Regions from separate parts of the Homo sapiens genome. Here region 2 is linked to region 1. The links come from fine-mapping of genetic effects on plasma protein levels. A gene starts in region 1. The other region holds a variant in brackets. All regions are shown on one strand. Distances are from middle to middle.

Region 1 (5,358 bases):
GACAGGAAGACGAGAGCAGGGGAGAGTCCGCCCATCTCCAGCCTGCTGAGAGGAAACTGCAGGTGGAAAAGGCCTGGACCAAATCCAGGCTGGGAAAGGCAGTAGTTGGCAGGGTGCTTGTCAGGAATGCACGTTCCTGGGCCGCAGGGTTGGGGAGGGTCTGGGAACCGGTGTGCTGGACAGAACTCCCAAGGTCTCTGATCTTGCAAGTCTCCTACCAAAGCTCCAGCGAGAGCCACTGACCTTATTCCCTAAGAGCGGATGGTTCCGTAGGCTGGACACAGGGAGGGACTGCCCCAGACGGGCTGGGAACCATGAAGCCAGCACAAGCCTCTGTGGAGGCAGGGGGTGGATGAGATGGTCCTGGACCCTGCAGCTTGGGAGTCTCTGGGTGCCCGTGAGTGAGGAGGAAGCAGAGCAGAAAGGCTGTGCAGGGAAGCTGGGGGCAGGGTAGTGGTCCCATGCCTGGGGGCCCTGCCCTTCTCCCTCTGAGGAGGTCGACCTGCAGCCATGTGGGCAGGGCCAGTCATAGTGAAAGAGGAGGGGGCCAGGGGCCTCCAGCCCACCGGAGCCATCATCCTCCCGCTGCTGTGCCCAAACACCTTGGGCTCCCATCTGCGACACCGTGAAGCAGGTGCTGTAGGGGCCTCCCTGCTCTGGAGCCCCCCAGACAAGCCTCCCACCCTAAGTGCGCACCAGACAGACAGGCCACAGGAGGGGCCTTGGTAGTGCCTGCTGCAGCTGGGGGGCATGCCCAGGCCAGGGGCACCCCTCTCACCTGCAGCATTGTCGGCACCATTAGCATTGACCTGTTTTCCCCAAGGAGTGGGGTCCAGCCTGCACCAGTGCCGGCCAGCCCAACCCCCTGGCCAGTGGCTGCCAATGCCCTGGGTGTGGTCAGCTGCAGCAGCATAGACCCAGCGCCCAAGGGACTGCCCTGCCCCCCTCAGCCCTGCCCTCCAAGATGCTGAGACACCCAGGCCCCGGAACCAGGCCCAGTGCAGGGACAGACACACAAAGAGCAGCAGGTACACATGCCGTAGCCTGCGGCTCAGAGGGAGGCTACTGACCATCCCTGGGGGCATGCCAGTAGGTAGCACCCACTTTCCCTTGCCCAGCACTGCGGGACCCTGTGGCCTGACTTTGACCCCATTCAGGCCCCTCACCAGGCCCCAGACCTCAGGCCTAGCCCTGCCACAGCCTCCACCTAGCCAGCGACCCCACCACACAGCCACACAGTAGACGCAGCCCAGCCCTGCCTGGAAGCCCCGGACCAAAGTGGAGAGCCCAGACTCCTGGACCAGCCTGGCTGCTCTCCCGCAAAGCAGGTGAGAGGGCAAGCCTGGTGCAGGTGCCCCGGGTCCCGGCGGCCCCGGCTTTCACGCCCCTTGCAGACACCAGCCCTGCTCCAGAGTGCGGTAGCACCTCCCAGGAGGCCGCCTCTCGACCAGACAGCGTCCCAGGAGCGGGGCAGGAGCGAGAAGGAGAGACAGACAGGGACCGCGAGTGACAGAGGGAGTGAGCGACAGAGACGAGTCAGCCACCGAGAAACAAAGTGAGCGACAGAGACAGTCTCAGAGGCCGGGAGAGGAGCAGGAACCTACAGCCACGGACAGGTAGAACGCGAGGCATGGGAGAAGAGACTCCAGCGGCCGGGAAGGCCCAGAACCACGCGCGAGTCCCGCAGGCGTCTCCGAGTCCCCCGCCCCCAAGGCCCGCACTGCGCGCCCCTGGACACGCCCCGGCGCGCGCCCTCGCGCGTAGCCCACCCGCCCCAGGGGAGCGGGCTGCAGGCGGGGAGGGGCGCACCGCTGCCGGGGGTTCCGGGCCAGGTGGGCAGCACCATGTGGAAGCAGTCGCACATCGCGGCGGCCAGGCGGTGCGGGCCTGGCGGCCCGTCGCGTCCAGTCGCTGGTCCCGGCTCCGGCGCACGGGGCGGGCGGGCGGGAGCCGCGCTCTGCCCCGCTGCCCTGCGCTGCCGCGGGCGGCCGACCTCGGACTGCGGACACCGCGCGCCAGGCTACCCAGCCGCTCAGCTAGGACCCCGCCCGGCTCCGCCCAGCCCTGCCGGGCCACTGCGGAGCGCGCTCGCGGGCGGTGCCGTCGGCCTCATTCAGCCCATTGGCTGCCGTCGCCGCGGCCCCGCCCCTCCCAGCCAGGCCCCGCCCCACCCCGCGCCCCCGGCCCGCCTGTCGCGTCCGCAGAATTAACTTTGGACTCCCGCCAGGGAGCGACCTCTGGATCCCCGCACCGAGGCTCCTGGACTTGCCGCTGTCTTCACCTCCCATTCCGGGGGAGACAGACACTTTAGTCAGAAGCTGGGGTGGGGGGCAGCCTGCGGGGACAACAGGGGTCGCGGGCACCGCAGGAGGTGATCTGGCAGCATAAGGACAAGATAGAATTCTGCAGGGGCTGGTGGGTGGCAGATACGAGGACGCGGCTGAGAGCGTGCAGCGGGAACAGGGCGCCCCGGGCAGGGCTGCGGGGTGGGCGCCGCGTGCGGGAGCGCCCAGCGCTGGGGGCAGTCCTGGAGCCAGAACCCCGCCCAGAGTCATCCTTTCTGCTGATTCTTGTCAAGAGCCTAGGGCCTAGGACACAGCGGCAACCAGCACCCCACTGGCCCTGCCCCAGGGGCTCCAGGTCTGGCGTAGACACAAGCAAGCCTGTAAGGATGAGGCGTTCTGCAGGGCGGCACTGCCCTGGGGGCGGGGGAACGGAGGTCCTGGAGGGCTCCTGGCAGTGTAAGCTGGGACCTTAGGGGTGAGACATGTGCCAGGCAGTGTAGGAAGCGTTCTGGAGAGAGGGGACAGAGTAGCGTGTGTGCAGAGAATGGGGGCAAAAGGGCTGGGGTTGAAAGTCAGGCCCAGTGGGCGGGGGCAGGGCAGCAAGGAGGCTGAGGGGGCTCCTGTCGGTAGGAGGTGCCACTTAAGGCTCCAAGCAGGGTCTCTGAGCGTGGTGAGAGCTGAGGAAAGACTGCGCAGGTGGCTAGGGGTGTTGGCATGGGGCACAGCTGGAAACAGGAGCAGTGGAACCACGGCCATGGTATGGGAGGGAGTGAAAGGATATGCAGGCAGAGGGGACTTGGTGAGGATCAGAGTGCAGAGGGTGGGAGCCTCCCTGGGATCTAGCTTGGGCACCACACAGAGGCAGCACACCTGGGGGTGTGGACAGGGAGGGCAGGGGCCCAAGGGAGTTCTAAGAGTTTGGTGACGCCTGGCCTGGTGTAGACCCAAACCGGGCATACCCCAGAAGGAGTGGAGTTCTGCAGGGATTGTCGGGGAAGGCAGGGCTGGAAGAGACCCAGGAGAGGACCGCCACCTCCATGAGGAGCTGCCTGGCAATGTCCAGGGGTGTGGGTCAGATGCAGGGACACACACACACACGGACACACATACGGATACACACACACATACATACATACAGAGATAAAGACACAGAGACACACAGACACACACGGACAGAGACACAGACACACAGATACACAGGTACACATACAGACACACACACAGAGGCACACACAGACACACACAGAGACACACAGACACACATGGACAGAGACACAGACACAGAGATACACAGGTACACATAGAGGCACACTCACACACACACAGACACACACACAGAGACACACAGACACATACACATAGAGACACAAACACACATGCTCTGTCATACACACACACACACACACACACACACGGACACCTTTTCCTGGGGTGGGAAGAGGCCAGGCTGTACCGGAAGGGCCAGGCAGACACACACACTCATAGATAAGATCACAAACTCACCAAGACACAGACACAGGCCACCTGAGATATTTGATACACTCAGGCCTGCATGCATGAACACCCACACCAGGATACAGACCCATGCACGTGTATACATACACACAGGGGCACACGCATTCCTGGGCTCATTTGGAGACCACGCACAGCTAGCGGGCCCAGGTGAGCCACCCGGGCACGATGACTCACCCTAGACAGTTCCCGTTAGCCGCGCTGCAGCCACCGGGCAGCCATCCAGCAGCAGGTCAGATGGACGCCAGAGCCACTGCTGGGAAGAGGCCCTGGCAGCCTCCTGCCAGTGAGCCCAGGCATGATGGGCACAACCTTCTCCCTCGTGTGGGGACCTGGCGCAGGTCTTACCCCACCCCCTCGCAGTGTCCTTTTTTCGGGGCTGAGCAGTGTTGCCTGGGGTCCAGAGGCCCTGCACTTACCTCCCTCCCCAGGAGCCCACCCTGCTCTGGTCACCTGGAGTCAGTCACTCCCTGGACACAGGGAGAGAGCCACTAGGGTGCCTGGGTGCATACACCTCTGTGTGTGTCCCTGGATGTGTCTATGCCTCTGCCTGGTCTGCTGGGGTTTCGCCCGCTAGTCCTCTGTGTCTGAGTCTGGCTGCAGGGCCTGGGAACGAGGGGCCGCTCAGGGCACTCACCCACCTTTGTGTCCTCAGCCCCTTTAGGTGTGTGCCCTTGACAAAGTCATGTGGCCTCCTGGGTCCCCATCCAAATGAAGTGGCCCCTCTCCTGATTGTCTGGCGTGATCTGCGCAGGGCTACGGGGACTCCCCTTGGCTTTGCGGGATGGGTGAGGATGGAGCCCTGGGTGGGGAAGCCGAGGTTGCCCCCGACATGTCCCTGTCCCTGGGCTACTACCTGCTGCCCCTGCCTCTGTTTTCCTTCAGCAAGATGAGAGAACCCTCCAGGCCATCTTGGTGGGGGCCGAGTGAGAGCGCAAGTTCAGCGTGGCGTCACGGGAGTGTGGGGACCCCACACTTGGGAGGACTTTGCCCTGGTCCTGCCCCTCAGCCTGGGGTGGCTGAGATCTTCCCCTAGCTGTGTCCACTGGGCCTGTCCTCCCCTGGCTAAGAAATGGTCCCAGAACCAACCACAGCTGCCCAGGTCCAGGAACTTTGCCTCTGCCCTGCACGGGGCTGCCCACTTCCAAGGTGGGCACAGACACACACACGCAGCTGCGCCATGCTCCCCTGTGGCCCCAGAATTCAGGATGGGGTCTGGGCAGGGCCTGCTCCACCCGGAGGCCGTCCCTCCCTTCTCCTGCCCACTCTGAGACAGAGGGCTGGTGTCTCTCTGCAGTGGCCTCTGGCTCTGCGCTGCCCTGAGTGCTGGGGCCACAGTCTGGTTGTGACTGTCGGGGAGCTGGGGACTGCCCCTCCCACCCTCCTTCTGGGGGTCTTCTCCTAGCTTGAGGGTTAAGCTGACAGTGTCATGAGTAAGACACCTTGGGGTGTCTGTCCAGAGAGCTTCCCCACCTCAAGGAACCTGGGGTCCTGAGAGCTCTATCTCACTCCAGATGCCTCTGGGAGGGCCTGCAACTTGGGCAGTGTACCCCCACAAACA
Region 2 (5,358 bases), 24 kb before region 1:
TCCGGGAGCTTCACATCCACCTGGTCAGCCTGGACCTTCAGGTCAGTAGAAGCAGGCTGAATGCTGAGGTCAGTGGTCTTCAGGTCCCCCTGCATGGAGGGGAGACTCAGGTCGGCCTCCACCTTGGGTGCAGACACATCCACCAAGGCCTTGATGGACTTCCCTGGGGCCGATACCCCGAACGACGGCATCTTGAACTTGGGCATTTTGAACTTGCTGTCTTTGGCAGTCACGTCCTTGTCGGCCAGGGACAGGTCCCCCTCCAGCCACGCACCATCCAGCTTGGCCTTCTGGGCCTGGACATCCACCTCCATGCTGGGCAGAGACACCTCGCCATCGGGGGCTGTCACTTCCGCCTTGGGGCCTTTCAGGTCCAGCTTGGGGCCCTTAACATCTATCTGGGGGCCCTTGAGGTCCACTTTGGGCATCTTGAAACTGGGCATCTCCACTTTGGGCAGGTGCACTTTGGGGCCGGCTCCCTCGGGCACAGGGCCCTCCGGAAGTTTCACATCCACTTGGCCAGCCTGGACCTCCAGGTCAGCGGAAGGGGGCTGAATGCTGAGGTCAGTGGCCTTGAGGTCCCCCTGCATGGAGGAGAGGCTCACGTCGGCCTCCACCTTCGGCGCAGACACATCCACCGAGTCCTCCATGGACTTGCCTGGGGCCGACACCCCGAATGATGGCATCTTGAACTTGGGCATTTTGAACTTGCTGTCTTTGGCAGTCACCTCCTTGTCGGCCAGGGACAGGTCCCCCTCCAGCCGCGCACCATCCAGCTTTGCTCTCGGGGCCTGGACGTCCACCTCCATGCTGGACAGAGACATCTTCACATCGGGGGCTGTCACTTCCGCCTTGGGGCCTTTCAGGTCCAGCTTGGGGCCCTTGAGGTCCACTTTGGGCATCTTCAAACTGGGCCTCTGCACCTTGGGCAGGTGCCCTTTGAGGCTGGCTCCCTCGGGCAGGGGGCCCTCCGGAAGTTTCACATCCACTTGGCCATCCTGGACCTCCAGGTCAGCGGAAGGGGTCTGGACGCTGAGGTCAGTGGTCTTGAGGTCCCCCTGCATGGAGAGGAGGCTCACGTCGGCCTCCACCTTCGGCGCAGACACATCCACCGAGGCCTCCATGGACTTGCCTGGGGCTGACGCCCCGAACAATGGCATCTTGAACTTGGGCATTTTGAACTTGCTGTCTTTGGTGGCCACTTCCTTTTCTGTCAGAATTTGTTCCTTTTTTAAGCGTTTTTCATCGTGTATTAGTTGTATTTTTGTTGTGTTTGTCATTGAGTCACTGTCTTCTTTGTCTTTTAATCCTTCCTCTGTGCGTCTCTGTTCTCTTCTATCAGCTGTTGCTGTGGCCTCTCCTTCCCTTCCCTGCTCTGTGTCTTCTGTGGCTTTTTCTCTGCCTGTCTTTGTGTGCTTGCTTGGCGACCATCCTAAGGAGGGTATCTTGAACTTGGGCATTCTTATCTGTCCTTCTGTGTCTTCCCTGCCCTTGTCCTGTTCCTCAGTGATCCTTGTCCTCTGTAGTCCTTCCTCTCCATCTCCTTCATCCCCCTGTGCTTCTGCATGTGTGGTTGGTTCCCTGCCCGGCATCCACCCGGCTCCTTCCACCTCCTCACCCTTCAGGCCAGTACCCGCTTTTGAGGACGCATCCTGTCTCTTCCCTCGCTGTGGGGTACTAAGGCGCCTTTCTCTTTCTGGCTCTTTTTCTGTGGAAAATGCAAATTTTGGTGTCTTTAAATCGTGTACTCGCACCCTAATTTCTGGTGGGCCAATCTGTGTGCCTCCTTCGGTTGTGTCTCTCAAGGACAGTCTGGCGATCCCGATTTCCAGGCTCTGCAGTCCCTCGCCTTCACCCTCCCGGCTCATTCCAGGAGTTGGCTGGGCCCTGGGCTTCCTCTGGGCCACTGCTGTCTCCTGTGCCTGCCCCTCCAGGGTCTTTCCATGGAGCCTGGCTGCCCTGAGTCCCCCTTCCTGAGGGGTTCCCTCGCAAAGTCTAGGGTCACCGAGCTCTGTGGGCAATGGCATGCTCTGAGCAGGCATCACTTCTCGATCCTGTTCTGCCCTCTCCTCTCTCCTGCTGCCTGTGGCAGCCCCAGTCTCCTCGAGGCTATCACCCCAGGGCCCCAACTCTTCCAGGACCCCAGCACGGCCCACCCCACTCTGGAACCCCCTGCCTGGCTGTCCTGTCGATGAAGGGCCCTGTCCCGAGCCTGTCCTGAATCTGAGGTTGAGGAACTTCCGCCTCCTCTGGCTGCCCGGCCCTGCCTTCTGCTCTTGGCGCTCCACCGTGAGCTGGGCCTCTGTGTCTGTGCTTGTAGGGGACACGTCATGTGCGTCCCTAGGTTCGTAGGCCTCTGACGAGCTGTGTGACCTCTGGGGTCCCGGCCCCCGCTTGCTCTTTATGGATTGAAATTTTGGCCAAGAGAGCCTCTCCCTCTGGCTCTGCCTGCCTCTCCCCACCCTTGGTTTGGAGATGAGTCTCTCTTGGTCCCCATCTCCTTCCAGAGTTTTCGTGGGGGTCTCTCTGCACCCATCAGCAACATCCGTGTCCTGAAACATAGGGAGAGGGAATCTGTTGGTGCCAGTCCAAGAAGCCTGGGGCCCTGGCCCAGGGACAGATGGAGTGGGAGTGCTATCCCCTCCCAGGCTCAGCCAGCAGGGTAGTGAAGCCAGCTGGGGCCCTGCCCCCCGGGCATAGTGGTCTCACCTCCTTCTCCTTGCCCTGTGGGCCGTGCTGGGCATCGCTGGAAGCCCACTCTTCATCCTGTGGGGCAGGGAGCTGCCGTCTGATTTTGAACTGAACCTTGTACGGCTCTGAATATTGAAGGATTTTGAGAGCATCTTCATATTTTATGTTTTCAAAGAACACGGTTGTACTGAGCAGCTGATCCCCTAGACCAAGAAAGAGCAGCCCCAGGGCCGGGTGTGTGAATGAGACGGGGTCTGCTGTCTTGCCTTGGCTGGCGAGGAGGGTCCCGGGGACATGAATAGGGGGAATCCCACTGAGTCTGCCCCACCAGTCCCCCACTGAGTGCCTCAGGCACAGGCAAGGTGGATGGGGTCCCCCATTTTACTAGATGCAGTGGGTGATCCCAGCCTCAAGCTGTTGAGCAGAGGCGTGAGGAGGTCATCCTAAGCTCCAGGTGTGGTTCTTACCCCTCAATACCCCCCTCCAGGTCCCTCCCATCCTGGTGGGGAGAATGGTGACCCCAGGGATGGAACTGCCATGGCACCTTCTCTCAAGTTAAAAAGCTTGGCGGCTGAGGAGTCCTTCAGCACTTGCTTGACGAAGATCCCCTGGTCCCCACCACCT[G/C]TGACACTGTAGCCACTGGCTCCTGCCTCCACCTCTGTCTTCAGCGTCACCTCTGTTGCCTCCTGGACAGCCTGGAGCAGAAGCACATCAGGGCCATGGTGAGCATGTGCCAGTCCCACCATAAGCATCCCTGCTGGGGCCTGTGTCTCCAGAGGATGGGCACCCCACCATCCTTTCCATCAGCCCAGACAACACAGAGCAGAGTAGGGTACCCACCAGGTGGGCTCAGGTAGCTGTCTCTGAGCTCTGGAGGAAGCCAGCTGGAACCTGCCAGAACTCTTGTCCCCACCCCAACCTGCCAGGACTTAGGCACAGCCTGTCCATGCCACCAGGCCCAGCAGGGCACCAGGAGCAGCGCAGAACGGATTCTGCTTTCCCTGTGGCCAGTTTCTCTTTTTCAGCTCCTTCATGCATTCTTCACAAACGCGTGAAGCACCAGTTGTGTGCAAGGCACCTGATGCTCAAGACAAGGAAGCACAGCAATGCCAAGGAAAATACGGGACATTGGGTGCAGCCTGCGAGACCTGGGACAGGATGGGGCCTGTGTCCTGCAGAGCTCTTGGACTGCTGGGGCCTCCAAGGAAAAAAACTAGTTGCTTAAGAGGCAGAGTGCCCTCATCATTGGGTGCTAGCAGAGTCTAGCACCTTCCATAGTTCCATGGCCTGGGTGCTGACTGGCCTTTTCAGCCCCACAGCTTGAATATGCAACAGACACCAGCACTGCCCCATTGCACGGAGGAGAAAATCGAGGTCTGTACAGCCAGGTCTACCTGGCCAGGAGCTTGGCTATGCATCAGACTCCACCCCAGGGAGGGGTGGAGAGGGCCAGGACCAGATGTAGCCTTCTGGAGCCCCTGCCCTTCCCCAGGCCTGACAAGGGGGACAAGAACACCCCTCCTCCCCAGGGCACGGGGCACACTGCCAGCCTCTTTGCTCCTCCCCTGCCTGCTCTGACCTCGGACTCTCTGGCTGGATCCCTTGAGGACCGACACACCTCTGTGACCCTCAGCTCCTGCTGTACCCACCTCTGGACGACTCATCCTGAAAAATGTCCGTGAGTCCCCTGAATCTCGCTTCCACCAGGATCTCCGTCTCCCAGCAGAACCTTGCCTGCCGGGGGCGTCTTCCTGCAGCCACAAGTGTTGGGAGTTAGGCACCTGCCCCAGCTCAGGGACAGGGAGGGGCACAGGTAGGCTGGTGCCAGACCAGGAGCCCTCCCTTCAGAGGGGCCCAGAACTTCCAACACACAGCTGTGTGCAGAGGCAGCCGAGTTCCTCCAGGCACATCCACAGAGAAAAGGCAACTCTCGGCCTTCCTGCTTCCCGACAGGGCCCAGCCTACAGCCCACAGCACCCACCCTACAGCCCACAGCGCCCATAGGGAAGCCCCACAGCAACTGGAGTTTTGTATGGAGGGAGATAAGAAATTCAAATTGTACAAAAATGAATCCTTTCATAGACATGCCTCCTCTGATCCCTTCCCCGAGTCCTTGTCTCCAGAGGTAGCCATGGGGCCCTGTCCCCAAAGACAGCATGAGTGTGTTACACAGGTGCAGGGATGCACACACCCTGTGCCCCTGAAACACAAACACAGTAACATGAGGCCTGTCCCCATCAGCCCATACGCATGCTCACAAGAGCTGCAGGGCACCTCCATCCCACTGTGCCCTGGCCGGCCACAGGGAGGGACCCAAGGGCACAGAGGAGTCTGAGAGGACATCTGAGTGGGCACTGCCCAGTGGGCAGCGGGGCAGGGCAGCAAGGTTGAACAGACATGCGTGAGTTGCCCACACAGGGCGATGCAGGAGGAGACCTGGGTGCCTGTGGGGCTCTGCCCAGCAGGCTCACCTGGAGTCCAAAGTCGGCAGCCTCAGTCGTGTATTCGTAGACAGGTGAAGACCCCTGCGGCCGTGGTCGAATGCCCTCATCCGCAGGCCCTTCAGTCACCTGACGGGAGAGAATCCAGTTATTTTTGCCACTCGGTTCTCCCAGGGCCCAGGGAGAATGGGGGCAGGGTATGAGGAGGACACACTTCCTCCTGCTC

Alleles and levels. Positions count from the first base shown, and alleles are read on the strand shown. Strength reflects both the effect of a copy and how common the allele is.
As copies of C replace G in region 2, the plasma level of the protein whose gene starts at base 2,001 in region 1 goes down (moderate association).

Evidence for each region. PIP is the chance, under the fine-mapping model, that this variant and not a neighbour inherited with it causes the effect. Protein levels are from antibody-based Olink assays in UK Biobank. Linkage for the fine-mapping came from a reference panel and not from the study's own genotypes, which makes the PIPs less certain.
Region 2: its variant is fine-mapped to the plasma level of the AHNAK2 protein (UK Biobank, PIP above 0.99). The variant lies in the coding sequence of AHNAK2. If it changes the protein, the assay may bind it differently, which can mimic a change of level.

Annotation. Positions count from the first base shown.
Region 1 is chr14:104,976,374-104,981,731 of GRCh38, forward strand. AHNAK2 (AHNAK nucleoprotein 2) reads right to left here and starts at 2,001. Exons shown (of 7, transcript NM_138420.4): 1 at 1,810-2,001. The coding sequence starts at 1,864. RefSeq lists a silencer at 1,985-2,144.
Region 2 is chr14:104,952,248-104,957,605 of GRCh38, forward strand. AHNAK2 (AHNAK nucleoprotein 2) reads right to left here. Exons shown (of 7, transcript NM_138420.4): 3 at 5,163-5,261; 4 at 4,341-4,442; 5 at 3,236-3,386; 6 at 2,710-2,894; 7 at 1-2,552. Among named protein-coding and RNA genes, the nearest start is that of AHNAK2, 23 kb to the right of the region's middle. RefSeq lists an enhancer at 4,781-4,950 and a cis regulatory region at 4,866. The variant G/C (reference allele first, on the strand shown) is at 3,316.